2 linked regions of the Homo sapiens genome follow. The protein of the gene in region 1 purifies or fractionates together with the protein of each later gene. This does not show direct contact. Each region holds a gene or a part of one and is shown on either strand. Other genes may lie near its edges.

Region 1 (3,653 bases):
TACTAGAAAACTGAAAACCTCAAAAATGCTGAAAGCAAATCTATACTCTGCTTTTTATTAAATTCATTACTGTAAAATCTTCTGACTTATGATTCAGAATCTCCCCATGAACATTTTCTGTTTTTCTTTGCCTGGTTCTCATGCTAGACTTATAATTTTCTTGTCTCTTATAATTTTTTTCTTTTATAGTTTATGAGGTATTATGTGAGCTGGTCATGACTAATAAGAATGATTTTTATAAAATATAGTAGTGCACACAAAACAATTTTTAGATGTATTTCCAAAATTGTGTATTACATTTCATTTAATTAGGACATTCCATTTGTTCTTTTAATTAAAGAATTCTACATAAGCCTGTATTTTTTTTTACTTATTTTATTCTCATTATAATTGACATAAGTAAATTTATATGTTTATTGAGCCAATTTGTTCAGGTAAGAACTAGGGATGCTTCAGAAGTCATGAGGATGTTTTTTATATATAAATGTAGCAAACAAACACACAGTACTTGCTGTGTAACGGATGCTCCATGATAAGCCATAAATATTCCTGCTACAGTTAGTTTGTAAGTTCAAGTCAGAGAAGGAAAATATCAATAGTGAAGAAATAAGATTGATTCTTCATGTGGAGATAACATTTTTCCATGCTGCAAAGCTAAATCTTGCTGAATTTTAAGAGAAATTCTGTTTATTTCCTAGTTATCTTTAGTTTTGTTTGTCCTATTATGTGTCTTCTAACTGTGTATTCATCACAGCCCTTCTCCTTCTTTTTCTATGTGATGGCTACAGTTTTCTCACTGTTGTCTTCATGCCATGTCATTTTACATGGTACTTTGTAGGTTTTGATGAGAAAGTTGGTATTTATTTAATGCATTCAAAAATTGGTTTTAACTAGAGAGTTTGCTTATCAATATAACTTTCAAATCAGTTAAGATAAAAGGCAAACCTGTCCACAGGTGAGAGGATTAAGTAACTTAGCATTGTTTTTCTCTGTTTGTAAAAGGAAAATCTTATTAAATTCTTACACAGGCCAGGCGTGGTGGCTCACAACTGTAATCCCAGCACTTTGGGAGGCCGAGGCAGGTGGATCACGAGGTCAGGAGTTTGAGACCAGCCTTACCAACATGGTGAAACCCCACCTCTACTAAAAATACAAAAATCAGCCGGGCGTGGTGGCACATGCCTGTAATCCCAGTTACTCAGGAGGCTGAGGCAGGAGAATTGCTTGAATCCTGGAGGCAGATGTTGTAGTGAGCCAAGATTGCACCACTGCACTCCAGCCTGGGCGACAGAGCAAGACTCTGTCTCAAAAAAAAAAAAATTCTTACACAAAGTGTGACATCTATCTAATTTGCTAGAAAATATATCATAGAAATTAAAGTATTAGGAGAGTTAATGGTAAGTGAATAATTTTAAATTTAATGTTCTATGATACACTTACAGCACATGTTTCCATGTAGAATCTTTTATTTTTAAGTGTGAATGTTAAAGGCTGCAAAATAATAAAATGATCTCTGTGGATTTGAAATCTGGAATAATATTTCTTTTCCATATTGATATTACAACTCAGAGGAATTTCTCACTCTTATTTTATGTGATTTTTTTTTTTAGTGGGTGAAGGTGTCTACAGCTTATATTCTTAGTCACCTAACTGTAGTCAACTTCTTGGTCATTTTCTCTGGAAAAATTCTGAAGATCATGGCAACTTTTAGATTAAACCATTTTCTGGGTTTTTTTAATGCAAACTTGTTTATTGTGTTCACAAAGTGGCCAGTCATAAGACCATAAGCAACGCCTGCCCTTTCAGTGGCTTTCATACCATTACCATCTGTAATCAATAAATGTATATTTATTTTGTAAAACATAATGTTTGGAAGTATATATACATTGTTAAATGCTTAATTCTAGGTAATTACGCCACATAGTTAACATTTCTGTGGCAAGAGCAAGTGACATTGTCAGCATTTTTCAAAACTACAAATACATTATTTTGATCTATAGTCACTACGCTGTACAAAAATATCTCTTGAACTTCTATTAACTATAATTATGTATTTTTTGATCAACATCTTTTCAAACCCTCCTGTCTCCTAAATACCTTGGTGTCTGGTGGCCACCACTTTACTCTCTACTTCAATAAGATTAAGTTTTTTAGAATCCCTTTGTAAGTGAAATCATGAAATAATAATCTTTGTGTCTGGCTCATTTTGACAAATATAATGTCCTCCAAGTTCATTCATGTGATGGAAAATAATAAAATTTCCTTTTTTAAAGATGAAAAAAAATAATAGTCAAACTTCTGAATATAAACATATTCATAAAACCTAAACACACAATTTGAAAATGATGATCTAAAATTACTAATGAGTTTAGGCCAGGTGCAGTGGCTGAAGCCTGTAATCCCAGCACTTTGGGAGGCCAAGGCGGGTGGATCACCTGAGGTCAGGAATTCGAGACCAGCCTGGCCAACATGGTGAAACCCCGTCTCTACTAAAAATACAAAAAATTAGCTGGGTGTGGTGGCATGCACCTGTGGTCCCAGCTACTCAGGAGGCTGAGGCAGGAGAATCACTTGAACCCAGGAGGCAGAGGTCACAGTGAGCCAAGATCACACCACTGCACTCCAGCCTGGGTGACAGAACAAGACTCTGTCTCAAAAAAAAAAAAAAAAAAACAGTAAAATTACTAATGAGTTTAAACCGCCATTTAAAATCAAAGTTACGGCTAGGCACAGTAGCTCACGGCTATAATCCCAGTACTCTGGGAGGCCAAGATGGGCAAATCACTTGAGCTCAGGAGTTCAAGACCAGCCTGGGCAACATGGCCAAATCTTGTCTCTACAAAAAATATTGTGAAAAATTAGCTGGACATGGTGGCATGCTCCTGTAGTCATGAGGTAGAAGGTAGGACTTGGCTCAGGAGGTGGGACTCAGGACACTGGACCAAATTGAAAACTAGCTAAAACAGGGAGGGGGCTGAAGCAGCTTTCCATGAGGCACACCCACCAGGGTGCCATGTCAGTTTCTCATTCCCATGGCAACATGCAGAAGTTACCACCCCTTTCCATAGCAATGACCCAGAAGTTACTACCCTTTTCCTAGAAATTTCTGCATAATCTGCCTCATAATTTGCATATAATAAAAAGTGGACTATAAATATGGCTGCAGAACTGCCTCCAAGCTGCTACTCTGGGCACACTGCCTATGGGACAGCTCTCCTTCATGAGGAGAGGTTCAAACTTTTTCCTGGGCAAAGCCAAGTGCCCTCCCAGGCTAAGCCCCAGTTTTGGCCATCGCACACTAGAGTGGGCAATAGAGTGAGACCCTGTCTCAATCAATCAAGCAATCAATCAATGAATAAAATGGAAGTTTCTATATTTTGTTTCTCAGAGTGTGATACTTTAATTCCAGAAGAAATATGGTACTGATGAAAATCAACCACAGTCTCATTTTCAACAGTATTAAGGCATCAACAGCAGCAGGAAAGGCTTTTACCCATTTAAACTCCAGGCCTGATACGAGCACACAAATAAAAAGGTTCTGATACAACAATATCTATCAAATAGCAAACTGTGCTGTTAGGAACTATTTAAATTCCCACAAGAAAACAAGAATATTTCCAAAGTGATATGGACAATTTTGAGCAGCTTCTTAA
Region 2 (3,653 bases), on another chromosome or scaffold:
TGGGCAACTAAGGGAAATTAAGTGTAGGTGGATAATAGAAATCCACAGATAATTTTAGCTGTAACTCTTAGCCTGAAGTTTTCATATATTAGGACAATTAAATGTCATGTCACCCACCAGAATGCTGAAATGCGGCTTTTCCTAAATAGTGGATTCAGTAGATCTGCTAAGCACTGGAGATGTATTGGTGAGTAAAAAAGACCAAAATCATCTTGCCCTATGGAAGAGAACAAATACATAGTATTAATTTTTCCTCTGTAAGTGCCATGGGGAACAGTAAAACCAATGAGGGAAATTGAGGGATGTGGGGCTGTGTCAGTGCCCATGGAGGAGCCCACATGGGTATTTTCCCTTTTTTTTTTTTTTTTGAGACAGGGTCTTTGTCGCCCAGGGTGGAGTGCGGTGGCACAATCTTGACTCTCTGCAACCGCCGCCTCCTGAGCTGAAGCAATCCTCCTGCCTCAGCCTCCTGAGTAGCTGGGACTACAGGCATGCGCCACCACACCCAGCTAATTTTTGCATTTTTGTAGACAGGGGGTCTCACTCTGTTGCCCAGGGTGGTTTCAAACTCCTGGGCTCAAGTGACCTGAATGTCTCGGCCTCCCAAAGTACTGGTATTATAGGCATGAGCCACCACACCTGGCCCCTTGATGAATATCTTAATCAACTTTTACTCTCATTTTTCTGAATATCTTTTTTTTGTTTAACTTGTGGTTCTTGAATTTTTGTTGTGATTCTAGAGCCAATTTACTATCAGCAATTTCTAAAATCCCTACAAGTGACTTTTAACTTTGTGCAAAATCGGAGGCTCTGAAAAGCCACTTAATGGCTTTATAGTTTGTCCATGAATCATTGTTTTAAAATGACAGCTATCAGTGTGGCGGGTTTGGAATTTTAAATGATGAAAAATCAAATGTAGAGCAACAGAATCTAAGCTCTGTTTATTATGTGCATTAAAACTCATACAAGTTACAATTTTCCATTCTTTGCCTCATTTTATTGCCTTAAATATATCAGTGGTCAGTAAACATCTGAAATTCTGTAGATGAGATTGAAACTTTGGTTTTGGAAAAACATGCAGTAATATTTAGGCTGACTGGCCCATTTAGTAAATGAAGGGGTTCCAGTTTAATTTTTTTTTTTTTCTGGTGAAATCATGGTTATAATTCACTCATGTGGAAACTTAAGATTTGTGAACTGTCTCTTAGATGTTCGGTCTAAGAAGCAGATCACTTCCTATAATGTAATCACTTCTTCGAACAACAACAAAAAAGGGCTTCTAAAAATTGTGGTGAGTTTATTTAGCAAAGCACTATAAACCGAGGAACCTTTCTCCAAAAGTTCCAGGGGCAGAGAGGAGCTTTAGAATTCATACGGAATGCCACACATTTCCAGAGCATCTTAGGTTAGAGATGTGAGCAGGCTAGCACAAAGGGAAAAGGCCTACTAGAAAAACCTTGTTAAAACAATCGAGTTTAAGGAAGCAGTGAGGAAAAGGAGAGTAAGAAGTTGTCCCGGGTTGTTCAGCTAACAGGAACATGTAGATTTGAGACTCGATCATCTAAGTTTTTGTAGGCTGAAAGCAGTTGCAAGCCACAGATGTTAAGAAATTAGGCAAATGGATATTTTTAGTTAACCTACCTTGATGTTTTTATCATTTCTTTAGGCAGTAAATGGTCTTTGACTGAGTAGTACATGAAGTATCTTTCATTTGGGATTTAGTTTTATTGAGCCGCTTCAGTAATTCTGAGGCTGGGTGGTGGGTACATAGGTTTATTGCATTAGTCTTTCTTACCTTTTATGTCCTAAAAATACACATAATATATTTTTTAAATGTCCTTCCTGCCTGTTTCAGGAAAGCAGCTTTGGGTTGCAAAGCTGTTCTTATGAATACAATCTTCCCATCTCATTTCTTATTTCTGCTTGTGCCAGCAGTTTGCCTTATAACGCTGACTGCATGTGGAGTCTAGGTGCTGTTTAGCCAAGATGCTGTTGTCACTCACTTGCTTTTTGGTAATAGAAAGTACACTTACCTAATGTGTGCTCCTCCTTCATACTTCAGTCTGACACTGGAGGAGCCTTTAAAGGTTTTAAAGGTTTGGTGGTACCTTCTGGAGGAGGACGCTTTTCTGGATTTGGTAGTGGCGCTGGAGGGAAGCCTTTGGAAGGACTGTCGAATGGAAACAACATAACCAGTGCCCCTCCCTTCGCCAGTGCAAAGGCAGCGGCAGATCCCAAGGTAGCCTTTGGTAAGTAGCTCCCATCCCCCAGCCGCCTGTGTAAGTATCATCTATGGAAAATAGCTTTACAAAGATGTTTTTCTTATAGCTACCCTGTGTCTTGGAACTGTGTGAGCAAAACCAGGGTGATAATGAAAGAGATGGAACTTAGGGAGGTGTCGGTTACTTACAGAGTAAGTGGGTAGAGCACAGGCTTTTGATCCAAAACATCTCAGCTTTGTTCTCAGCTCTGCTGGCTACCAGTTGTGTGACCCTGGCCTCTAGGCCTCAGAATGTTCAATTTTGAAAGGAGAGTGGCCCTCAGAATTGACCTAGAGTCGAGAGAGAAAAGAAAATGCTATGTAGACCCTTTGTGTGCCAAGGGCTTTCTGTGTGCCTCGCACCAAACTGGCTACTGGGAACTCAGATGCGGTTCTCCGTGGCCAGGGTGCCTCCCACGCTAGGTTTGTTTGGGTATGGGATGTGTTGATTGCCTGATCCTGTTTTGAGGGAGTCAGTCAAAAACTCTTGGAATTAGCAACAGAGAATAGGATCACGGGTTAAAAGCTTGGAAATGATCCTGACTGGTTGGGTTGTATTTAGCTGATTATTCTGAGAGTATATACTGTTTGATTTTAATTTGGCAGAATGTTTAGTGTGATGTAAAATAAGTGTTCTCTGTTAAGTTTTGTTGTTGTTGTTGTTTTTTCTAAGTTGGAGTCTTGCTCTGTCACCAGGATGGAATGCAGTGGCGCGACCTCTGCTCACTGCAGCCTCCGCCTCTGGGTTTAAGCGATTCTCCTGCCTCAGCCTCCCGAGTAGCTGGGACTACAGGCATGCACCACCATGCCCAGCTAATTTTTGTAATTTTAGTAGAGACGGGGTTTCACCATGTTGGCCAGGATGGTCTTGATCTCTTGACCTTGTGATCCACCTGCCTTGGCCTCCCAAAGTGCTGGGATTACATCCGCGAGCCACTGTGCCCGGCCTCTGTTAAGATTTTTAACTACAGCCATCCCCTAGTATCCTGGGGATTGGTTTCAGCACCCCCTTGGATGTTCAAGTCCCATAGTCAGACCAGCATAACTCTTAGATAGGAAAAGTGAGTGTTCGTATCCACTGGTTTCTCATCCCCAGAGTACTGCATTGAGACAGGGTCTCGCTCTGTCACCTAGGCTGGAGTGTATTGGTGTGGTCTTGGCTCACTGCAGCCACAACCTCCCGAGCTCAAGTGATCCTCCCCCATCAGCCTCCCCAGTAGCTGGGATTATAGGTACACACCACCACACTCAGCTAATTTTTACATTTTTTGTAGAGATGGGGTTTTGCCATGTTGCCCAGGCTGGTCTCAAACTCCTGAGCTCAAGCGATTTGCCCACCTCAGCCTCCCAAAGTGTTGGGATTACATGCGTGAGCCACCACACCTGGCTGAGG

The links.
Region 2: the proteins of ERO1A (region 1) and NUP50 fractionate together in Homo sapiens (co-fractionation; one large-scale study listed by BioGRID). This does not show direct contact.

The regions. Positions count from the first base shown.
Region 1 is NC_000014.9:52,654,058-52,657,710, forward strand, and holds part of ERO1A (ERO1-like protein alpha isoform 2 precursor), read right to left. Parts: intron 1-3,653. UniProt on the Homo sapiens protein: Oxidoreductase involved in disulfide bond formation in the endoplasmic reticulum. Efficiently reoxidizes P4HB/PDI, the enzyme catalyzing protein disulfide formation, in order to allow P4HB to sustain additional rounds of disulfide formation.
Region 2 is NC_000022.11:45,173,832-45,177,484, forward strand, and holds part of NUP50 (nuclear pore complex protein Nup50), read left to right. Parts: intron 1-2,062; coding exon 2,063-2,249; intron 2,250-2,410; exon of another isoform or gene 2,411-2,551; intron 2,552-3,653. UniProt on the Homo sapiens protein: Component of the nuclear pore complex that has a direct role in nuclear protein import. Actively displaces NLSs from importin-alpha, and facilitates disassembly of the importin-alpha:beta-cargo complex and importin recycling.